Linked DNA regions of Homo sapiens. The protein of the gene in region 2 purifies or fractionates together with the protein of the main gene of each other region. This does not show direct contact. Each region holds a gene or a part of one and is shown on either strand. Other genes may lie near its edges. The genes, in order: AIFM1, ZNF462 and EHMT1.

The links.
Region 1: the proteins of ZNF462 (region 2) and AIFM1 purify together in Homo sapiens (affinity purification with mass spectrometry; one large-scale study listed by BioGRID and IntAct). This does not show direct contact.
Region 3: the proteins of ZNF462 (region 2) and EHMT1 purify together in Homo sapiens (affinity purification with mass spectrometry; 3 studies listed by BioGRID and IntAct, with this or other methods). This does not show direct contact.

Annotation. Positions count from the first base shown.
Region 1 is NC_000023.11:130,159,342-130,162,994, forward strand, and holds part of AIFM1 (apoptosis-inducing factor 1, mitochondrial isoform AIF precursor), read right to left. Parts: intron 1-3,653. UniProt on the Homo sapiens protein: Functions both as NADH oxidoreductase and as regulator of apoptosis.
Region 2 is NC_000009.12:107,006,057-107,009,709, reverse strand, and holds part of ZNF462 (zinc finger protein 462), read right to left. Parts: intron 166-3,653; coding exon 42-165; intron 1-41. UniProt on the Homo sapiens protein: Zinc finger nuclear factor involved in transcription by regulating chromatin structure and organization. Involved in the pluripotency and differentiation of embryonic stem cells by regulating SOX2, POU5F1/OCT4, and NANOG.
Region 3 is NC_000009.12:137,779,408-137,783,060, forward strand, and holds part of EHMT1 (histone-lysine N-methyltransferase EHMT1), read left to right. Parts: intron 1-227; coding exon 228-310; intron 311-2,883; coding exon 2,884-2,990; intron 2,991-3,653. UniProt on the Homo sapiens protein: Histone methyltransferase that specifically mono- and dimethylates 'Lys-9' of histone H3 (H3K9me1 and H3K9me2, respectively) in euchromatin.

The DNA.
Region 1 (3,653 bases), on a different chromosome or scaffold from region 2:
ACCACATGAAATAAAATGGTTGAGATTTGGAAATAATGACAAATCATGAAAATAAAAACGTGAGCGGGGCAGAAACTTATCTCAATCTGGGCAAGCTTTTGATTTTCAGAAGCTTACAAAAATAATGAACCATCAGAAGTAGAAAGTGGTAACTCTCAGAGCTTAGAAAATGAAACTGGTTAGGAAAAGTTCCATGTGATTTAGTTCAATGAATTTAGTTTGTCCTCCACCTCTACCCCTGGTTCATTTACTAAAAATAAATTTTTTTTGTTTTTGTTTTTCTTTTTTTTAATTCTGTTTATTCCTCCAGAAGACCCTAAATACAGACATTATAACAAATTTGTTTTAATATCATACTCATGTTTATTCTCCTTCTGCTTGCTTTTCACAAACTGATAATACTAACAGTGTAGATTTAGGAAAGTTCAGCAGCTTTTGTCTCAATTTGCCAAAAAAAAAAGAAAAAAGCATTTAAAAGTAAATGGACTTTTTTTTTTTGAGACAGGGTCTCACTCTGTCCCCAAGCTGGAGTGCAGTGGCACAATCTCGGCTCACTGCAACCTATGCTTCCTGGGCTCAAGCCATTCACCAGCCTCAGCCTCCTGTGTAGCTGGGACTACAGGCGTGAGCCACCAACGCCCAGCTAATTTTTCTATTTTTTGTAGATACGAGGTTTCACCATGTTGTCCAGGCTGGAAAAGTAAATTGACTTTAAAAAAAAGTAAACTGGTTAATATTTAAACTACTGCTTGAAAAGAAATGTAATACACTACTCTCATTAATAAACCAACTTTTAAAACTTTTTATATACCTACAAAGTGACTTTAATTTTGTAAAATGTACTAAGTATTGTTTGCTTACATTCCCCCTCCCCACATTTTCTTTTCCCTATGAAATTCCTCCCAAACCTTTCTCCCCATAGCTTCAAAATTTTAGGAAATATTACATCGTGACTGAAACATGCCTTTTCACTTGTCTTACTAACATGGAAAAGCCAACTTACTCCTTGACTTTTCATCATGGCAGCAGTTTACTTATTTTAGGTTTTCTGCAGTCAGACCACACATACAATGCAATTTCTTCCTCACACTTAGGATTTCATTCTTAAGAAGCCAGTTTGACCTGTGCAACAGCGCCAGACGACACACAGATGTTTGCTCAATAAATATTTGTTGAATTAATGAAGGAAGGAAATAGAAATTCTTCCTAATTCTATTGATATTGACTGAACATTCTTATTACTATTAAAATTTTTTTTAAATGAAAAGGTATCAGTATGTTGCCCAGACTAGACTCAAACTCCTGGGCTCAAGTGATCCTTCCACCTTAGCCTCCAGAATAGCTGGGACTACAGGCATGCACCATCGTGCCCGGATAACTGAACATTTTAAATAATTCTTTGCAAAGAAATTTTAGCCAGGGCAGGCGCGGTGGCTCACATCTGTAATCCCAGCACCTTGGGAGGCCGAGGTTGGTGGATCACTTGAGACCACGAGTTTGAGACCAGCCTGGCCAACATGGTGAAACCCCGTCTCTACTTAAAAATAAATAAATAAATAAATAAATAAATAAATAAAATGAAAAAATAAACTTAAGAGTTTTTTTTAAAAAAAGCTTTAGCCAGATTCCATTTATTTTAGGTTGCTTAATCATAAATGAGTAACCTCAAACACCATAGACCAGCATTAGAATAGTAGCTAAACTAGCAAGTTCATTTCTGTAGGTTTTGTGATTTCCTGTTTTTCCATACTCCCAAAAGGCGTTTTCCAAAAACACAACTTCACAATTGAGGCACCCAGGGATCCTAAATGGTTAAGAGATCTATACGTTCTTGAGACTTGTTTCCTGAGGGTCAAACTGATTTTTCCAGCATGGAGAAAACACAGGACAGCCAGGTGCGGTGGCTCACACTTGTAATCCCAGCACTTTGGGAGGCCGAGGTGGGCGGATCACGAGGTCAGGAGTTCGAGACCAGCCTGGCCAATACAGTGAAACCCCGTCTCCACTAAAAATACAAAAATTAGCTGGGCGTGGTGGCAGGTGCCTGTAATCCCAGCTACTCGGGAGGCTGAGGCAGGAGAATCACTTGAACCCAGGAGACAGAGGTTGCAGTGAGCTGAGATTGTGTCACTGCACTCCAGCCTGGGCAACAGAGCAAGACTCTGTTTGAAGAAAAAAAAAAAAAAAAAAACACAGGACAAGCCTAGATAGTCTGTCCATTGTAGATAAATGATTCTTTACAAGGGATCCAACAACTATTTATCAGCCTTTTTTTTTTTTTTTTGAGACAGATTCTCGCTCTGTCGTCCAGGCTGGAGTGCAGTGGTGTGATCTCGGTTCACCGCAACCTCCACTTCCCGGGTTCAAGCAATTCTCCTGCCTCAGCCTCCCGAGTAGCAGGGATTACAGGCATGTGCCACCACGCTTGGCTAATTTTTGATTTTTAGTAGAGACGGGGTTTCTCCATGTTGGTCAGGCTGGTCTTGAACTTCCAACCTCAAGTGATCTGCCCACCTTGGCATACCAAAGTGCTGGGATTACAGGCGTGAGCCACCACGCCTAGCTATCAGCCTTTTTTAATTTTTTAATATCAACCCTTGCTGGAATTTTAGAAGAAACAGAGTAGTAATAACTATAGTACAGCGTGAACCATTCTGATGAAAGACACACAAGGAAAAATTATTTAGATAACAAAATAAAATCTCTCTTCTGCAAAGTTAAGTCCTTCACAATGCTGTACTAGGGTTCAGTCACGAGAATTTACCATGTGCCAGAGATGGTACAAGATGCTAAGGACACAAAAATAAATAGGACATAATCCATGTCCTCAGGTAGTGTTTAATTTAGGAGAATGGCTGCTACTATTCTGAATATGAGAAAATGAGCTTGATACAAATCACAAGAGACTCCAGATTGCTCAGTTTGGTTTTTTAATCCTTACGTCAGCAAAACAGAAGGGGAAGAGTCACTACTCATCCAAAACAGTATATACCAAACTTGTCTGATCATATGAATGTCAAGGGGCTTGTTAAAATACAGATTCCCAGAATTATCTCCTGGAGAAGGTTAGGAACTGGTTCTCTACTCGATTCACATGAGCAGGCAACTTTTGGAAACATGATCTAGAAGAAAGCTAAGACATGCAGTAACTCCCTCAAAAAGTTAGAACATTTCTAGAAAATGTAACTTATTAACTGGTTACAGAAAGGGCTGAGCTGCCAAAGAATTTCTTCTGCAAAGCCTTGTCTCAGCAGAAACAACGGGGGAAGACTCATCTTTTAGGCTTCAAAACGAAGTCACATTTGGCAGTGTCCAGGAAGCCAGGATCCTTGCCCACAAGGAGCTCAGTTTCCTTTTTAAAGAGGTGAGAAGGATTCCAAATAGAGAAAAACGTTCAAACATTTGAACCTAAAGTCAGGGAGTCGGTGATCAGTTTGATAACATGGGCAGCACTGTTTGGTGACCAAACAAAATATTATAGAACAGAAAATGTCTATTATCTAACCTATCTGCTCCTCTGTGTCTGAATGCAGACATAGAGTGATGACTATGAGTTACCTTCAATCATCTCTGGAAGGAGGCAGAGCATCCAAATAAATAAAGTAAATAAACAAATAGTAGCTATCATGGTTTTAAGGCAGAATGCAACATAT
Region 2 (3,653 bases):
CTTGCTTTGGACAAAGGCATCCTTGAAGTGGCCCAACTTACATGCCGTGTCTCAGCACATGTCTTTCCCACTCAGAGCCCTGTGAAAACGCCCGTCCACAAAATTCACATGGAAAACGCTTCTCAGTGTTAAGAGCAGCCCCGTGGTCAGAAAATCTCATCAGCTCTGCAAAGAGAAAGCAGAAGTGTTACCTGTGTGCTGTGGGAATCAGCAGAATAGGTAAGTCAGCATTCATTAGGATACCCTCTCTCCTACCTTCACTGATAAAGCCATGTGGTGAAAGCAATTTCCAGATTCCTCACTTTTTCTTAGGTTTCCCCCTTAGGGCATTCCTTGAATAGCATTCGAGAACTGTTTCTGGTTCTTGGGCCCCAAGACCTCATTTCGCCTCACCTCCCCAATGCTTCTATCACAAAATCTGGGTCTTTCTTGACTGAAGAGCCGCTTGCCCGAGATTCCAAAGGAATCTGAGCATTATTTTTTCCGATTTATTCTCTCCCTTGTGTGATGATTTATATCAGTGCCTCACAGGCTAGCATCTATTCATTTCCTTTTTGACACAGGTTTATCTTTGTTCACTGAAAAGAACATAGGCTACCGAAAGCCCTGGACCAGGTTATGTGTTGTGGACCTCAGGGTTTCTACTTGTTCCAAGTAAGGCTGAAGGCTCATGACTTGTGGTCATCCATCATAGACATTATAATCAATACCTTACAGGGCGGTTATGTGCACTGAATGAGATCTGCAAGCGAAGAATCTACCATGAACATTTATCTGGATGAGTGGGAACCAGTATGTGAACACATGTCCCCTGCTATTGAGAGATCCTGGCCAGCTGCCTGGCACCTACCCCTCAATTGGTGGTATTCATGAATACGGGGATATGCAGACATTTCTGGACGGTCTGTTGTAAACATCAAATATTGACTTAGTTGTTTTGTTTCCTCCATGGTACTAGGCACATGGTAGAAGTCTGATAAATGTGGATTGGCTGTTTAACTGTTTTCAGGCCACGTCTCCTGGCAAACTCAAAGATAAGAGATTATATGGCCATTGTGTTAGCCCGAGTTCCTAGCCCATATGTGTTTCATTATACCACAGAGGGCCAAGTCTTCATGTAGGTAATAAACAGCAGGACCTTGCCAGTTCTGCAGCCGTGTTGCAAAGTGAGGGCATCGCACAGGGAAGTGTTGATCATCTTTACACTCTGATCACTCTGGTCCACACATACAAGACATTACAGGAAGATGCCTCCTGGTTGAAATGCCCCATCTAATAAGATTCTCAGGACGATGTTAACAGGATGGGGGGCTCTGTGATGCCTTAATCTTCAGCACAAACAGCTATGTGACTGGGGCCAGATTTAACAAAAGATGAAACATTTTCTCACAAATTAAGAAGATCACCACACAAGCCATTAAAAATAATTGCACAGACTATCTTCCTTGATTCTTTTCATTGGAAATGAGACAGCACCATCTGCTCTGCGCATTAATTCCTTAGCAGGGATTATCTTGGGCAAGAAATCAACAGAATGCCTTCCTGACTCCTCCCCAACTGCATAATGAGAGGGGGGTGGGGAGGATTCTGCTTGGGTTAATTTTGATTTCTTCATGCCTGGATTCTTCTCTTTCAAATCTTCCCTGAGCTTCCTAGGCAGGACCTGCAGCGTGTCCATATTCAGTCCGGCACTTGCATTTAGAAAGGAGGTAGGGAGTGGGGTGGCTGCGAGGCTGTGAACCCCCTAAACTGAGGGTGTCTGATAAAAGTCTAAATTGCCAACAAGAGGAATAATGTTCCTGGTACACTTGTTTCTTTACCCTTAATCTGTAAATAGGAAACCAGTCATCTGTCCTTTCCAATGGCACATACTAAGTTCCATCCTCAAAGGAGGAGGCCACTGGGCACTGGCCACACTTCCAAGAGCTCTCCACCAGCCTGAGAGCTGCACGCAAGCCACCTCCTGCCCTCTGCTCCTAGAAGCTGGGATGTCTAGCAGAAACACCCGAGGCTATTGTGTGTATTTCTTTTTCCTGCCAAGAATACACCTAGATGGTGGAAAGTTGATTCTTGGTCTATTCAAAGGAGAGATGGGACAAAGGAGGCTGCTCTTTCAAGGATCGGCGAGGGGGAAGGGAAGGTTTAGGCTTGTAATTCCCATTAATGTGACTGGAAGTTACTCATGTAAATCCCCCACCCTCTGAGAGGAATACGTGCTTCTCCACCCTGAGGGCTTTTTGTTCCCCCATGTGGTAAAGCTCACGAATGTGGACACTATACTTTTTCCAGTGAGAAGAGGAGACCCTGAAGTTCTTTCCAGCCAAACCACTCCAGTGTAATGCCACAGTGCCAAGTAAAAGGGGGCTGCCAAGTAGGGTAAAATAAGGAGGTCTGCCTGGTATACCACACACATCTCAACCACCATGTTTTAAATTCGAGTTTTCTTTCTTTCCTTTTCTTTTTTATAAGGAGTCATAGGGGAGCAGAAGCCTAGAAGGGTATTTTGCCTTTATAATGCTTATAACCTTTGAAATCACACATGCTCAGCTTTAGAGATTAAAAAGCCATAATAATATCCAATGAGAAACAGTTTATTTCCAGAGGAGAAAAGGCAAGGCCACAGAGCGTCATGAAGAAAAAGGAGTCTTTCTGTCAAAAGTATCCTCTCCCAGAAAACTCCGGTAACAGTGCAGAGATGTTAAGAAATCATTGTAAAGAACATACTCATGAAATGGTTTGAAAAAGAAAAAAGAAAGAAGCCATGCTTCTCCGATCACAACCGTTTTCCTTGTAAGAAATGGATTAATACAGCCTCTACTAATAAAAATAATAACTTTATAAGAACAATCAACCTATATGGTAAGGATGTTTTATTTGTCCATGTATTTTTCAGGTTAATACAGGCACAGGGTTTTTGAAAGGGTAGTGTACCTTGGCTGTCATTTCCTGCTGACTGTCTTGGTCAGGGGTTCAAGAGCCAAACTGGGGCCCCCTTCGCAAACCCATAGTCTTTAGCCCTGGCATCATGGTAGGAGGGTGAGTGCAAGTCAGGAAAAGGAACAGGGAACACCTTGGAGGGAAGTAGCCCACCAATAGGCTTCCTTAATGTTTGCAGACAGAACAAGCAGAAAACACAAAGAAATTCTGCAAAACTGCTCCTTACAGCAAGGTCCCAAGGGCCACTGAATCCACAGATTTCAGGGTCAGGTCCCCTTCAGTGAAGATTACACTACTCGAAGCACTGGGAAAGTGGTGTGCAGGGTAAGAAGAGGGCTTGCCTTTGGAGCCAGAAGATGTAAATTTGAATTGAATTTGGTCTCCAGGGTTTATATTTTTTGTTGTTGTTTGTTTGTTTGTTTTGTTTTTTACTTTGAACATGCTCTTAAATTTCCTGGGTCCTTATTTTCCCATTTGTGAAATCACAAAAATAACACCTACATTGCAGGCTTATCATTTATTAGGTGATTGTTATATTCTAGGAACTGGGTGAAGGTCTTCTGTGTTATCTCATTTAATCTTTACAACAACCCATGGAACCACACCCTGGATAGCCAAAGAAATCTTAAACAAACAGAACGAAGTTGGAGGCACCACCCTACCCGACTTCAAAGTTGACTACAAAACTATAGTAATCAAAACAGCATGGTACTGGC
Region 3 (3,653 bases), about 31 Mb from region 2:
CCGCAGTTTTTACCATGAGATATCTCGACTGGTGGGTTTGCACTTGAGCTTGTGGGGCTGGTGGGCAGACGTCTGCCGGGCCTTCCAGCCTTCAGCTTCATGTGTGGGACGCGGAGCCCCATGAGCTTGAGGGGCTGGTGGGGAGATGTCCGCCGGGCCTTCCAGCCTTCAGCTTCATGTGTGGGATGCAGAGCCCCATGCTGACTGTTGTCTTGTGCTTCCCACAGACCCAAGAAGCTTCGCTTCCACCCAAAGCAGCTGTACTTCTCCGCCAGGCAAGGGGAGCTTCAGAAGGTGCTCCTCATGCTGGGTAAGTGCCTTCCTGCGGCCCGGGCACATGCAGCCGGCCCTGTGGCACTGAAAGAAGCCGAGAGCAGTTGTTACTCCTTCCTCAGGAGGCTGGTCTCGTTTTGGTTTTCTGTTTCTGTGTCTCCGAGTTCTCTGATGAGTGAGAATAGGTTGCCCACTGGTGTTGAGGCTTTTTATGGTGTTCATATCCAGTTACGCAAGATATTAGAACTATTCTCTACGAAGTTCTAATTTTTAAAAAGGAATTGGTATGTGATTATTAAATCAAGCAGAAATAGAGATTAAGGAAAAGCAAAACTAGTGAGTTGTGGCCCTGAGATGTGTGGTGATGACGCTGAGATGTGTGGTGATGACGCTGAGATGTATGGTGATGATGCTGAGATGTGATGACGCTGGGATGTGTGGTGATGACGCTGAGATGTGTGGTGATGACGCTGAGATGTGTGGTGATGACGGCATCACTGAGATGTGTGGTGATGACGCTGAGATGTGTGGTGATGACGCTGAGATGTGATGACGCTGGGATGTGTGGTGATGACGCTGGGATGTGTGGTGATGATGCTGGGATGTGTGGTGATGACGCTGAGATGTGTGGTGATGACGGCATCACTGAGATGTGTGGTGATGACGCTGAGACGTGTGGTGATGACGCTGAGACGTGTGATGACGCTGGGATGTGTGGTGATGACGCTGGGATGTGTGGTGATGACGCTGAGATGTGTGGTGATGACGGCATCACTGAGATGTGTGGTGATGACGCTGAGACGTGTGGTGATGACGCTGAGACGTGTGGTGATGACGCTGGGATGTGTGGTGATGACGCTGAGATGTGTGGTGATGGCATCACTGAGATGTGTGGTGATGACGCTGGGATGTGTGGTGATGACGCTGGGATGTGTGGTGATGACGCTGAGATGTGTGGTGATGACGGCATCTCACTGAGATGTGTGGTGATGACGCCGAGACGTGTGGTGATGACGCCGAGACGTGTGGTGATGACGCCGGTATGTGTGGTGATGACACTGGGATGTGTGGTGATGACGCTGGGATGTGTGGTGATGACGCTGAGATGTGTGGTGATGACGGCATCTCACTGAGATGTGTGGTGATGACGCCGAGACGTGTGGTGATGACGCCGAGACGTGTGGTGATGACGCCGGGATGTGTGGTGATGACGCTGGGATGTGTGGTGATGACGCTGAGATGTGTGGTGATGACGGCATCACTGAGATGTGTGGTGATGACGCTGAGACGTGTGGTGATGACGCTGGGATGTGTGGTGATGACGCCGGGATGTGTGGTGATGACGCCGAGACGTGTGGTGATGACGCCGAGACGTGTGGTGATGACGCCGGGATGTGTGGTGATGACGCTGGGATGTGTGGTGATGACGCTGAGATGTGTGGTGATGACGGCATCACTGAGACGTGTGGTGATGACGCTGAGACGTGTGGTGATGACGCTGGGACGTGTGGTGACGACGCTGAGACGTGTGGTGACGACGCTGGGACGTGTGGTGACGACGCTGGGACGTGTGGTGACGACGCTGGGACGTGTGGTGATGACGCTGAGATGTGTGGTGATGACGGCATCACTGAGATGTGTGGTGATGACGCTGAGACGTGTGGTGATGACGCTGAGACGTGTGGTGATGACGCTGGGATGTGTGGTGATGACGCTGGGATGTGTGGTGATGATGCTGAGATGTGTGGTGATGACGCTGGGATATGCGGTGATGATGCTGAGATGTGTGGTCATGACGCTGGAATGTGTGGTGATGACGGCAGTCGATGTTTCACCTGTGCTGATCGCAGCAGCTGTGGTGTGGACAAAGTAGGCTTCAGCTATAGGTATTTTATAACAGGCAAACCGATTGCATTAGATTTCTAATACGCAAAAGCATACTTGTTAGAGAGCCTTCCCAGTGATAATTTGGTCTCTGAGCTCATAGCTTTAGGCTTGATTTCTCTGACGTTCATCGTCTCTGGGTTGAAAAGGATGATTAAGAAGCCCTTTACTGGACAGTACGTCAAGTAAAAAGAAGTGAAACTATTTGCTTTTAAAGAAAGGTTTATTTATGTTGACCAGCAGTTTTAATCATTTTGTCATGGACTTCACAGGACACCTGTGAAGGTCACCTCACTGCTCCGTTGCTCACCGTCCTCTCAGACCTCCTGGGAATTGACCGATGCTCAGGCCTCTGTCCCCGGCCTTGCTTGCTCCCCTAGGGTGTGTCTGCCCTGGTCAGCCGCCTCACTGGGCCTGGGGCGGCCATGGCCAGGCCACACAGAAACACAGAAGGAACCTCAGAGTTAGAGCAGGGTGGTAAAGGGAAGAGCGTGCCTTGCCGAGTTAGTTCTGACAGAGGGACCTGCCTGTTCAATTCCGCAGGAGACTAGCACACTCAAGTCTCAAGTCCAGAGGATGGTGCTGTGGGCGGGTTCCGGCGTGGCTCGAGGTGGCTGTTTATGTGGAGGATGGTCATTTGTGAGTGCTTGCCAGCCATCGTGACAGTCCTGAGCTGGAGTCTGTGGCTACATCTGAAATCATTAATAAAACTGTGTTTGTTCACAGTGGACGGAATTGACCCCAACTTCAAAATGGAGCACCAGAATAAGCGCTCTCCACTGCACGCCGCGGCAGAGGCTGGACACGTGGACATCTGCCACATGCTGGTTCAGGTGCGGCGGCACGGCGCCCTCCTAGGGCTCTTCACCTGCTCTCTTTTATTTTTACCAAAGTAAAATCATACCACGTTCGCGGTTCTTCCAGTGTAAGAGTTCCGTAGTGCTGTGAATCGGGCACAGAGTCAGCTTTTCTGCCCCCGAGTCCTGCAGGTGGATCAGTGCTTCCCGCTGTTTCTTCCGGCATTTACCACGGCCTTTGAGAAGAGCATGCCGCCATTTGGCTGTTTCTTGATTTGCTTTCTTTGGTTTTGGTTTTGGTTCTTCACACTCATGACGTCCCTCTGGGGGAGCCAAGCACTCGCAGAGGCACGGACGCCCCTCCCCCAGCCCCGTTGACTGGCTCCCATTTTGTTTAGATCAGATCGTGTGAGCATTTTCAAGCTGAACCACGTCGTCTACAGGGTATGTTGTGTCTGTCGTTAATCACTGGCTTGTGTTTCTGTTGGTTGAGTTGACTCTGCCACCTGCTAATTTATTCTGAACCATCTGAACGCTGCCCGCTTGTCTCTGGGTTCAGACACACGACGCTGTTTGTCCCCCTGTGACGCCCCTTCCCTGATCCCGGTGTTGGATCCCCTGTTTCTCAAGTGCCAGGTTTGAGTCTGGTGCAGTCTGACTTCTGATCCTTTGTGTGTGACCTATTATTTCTGGAGACTT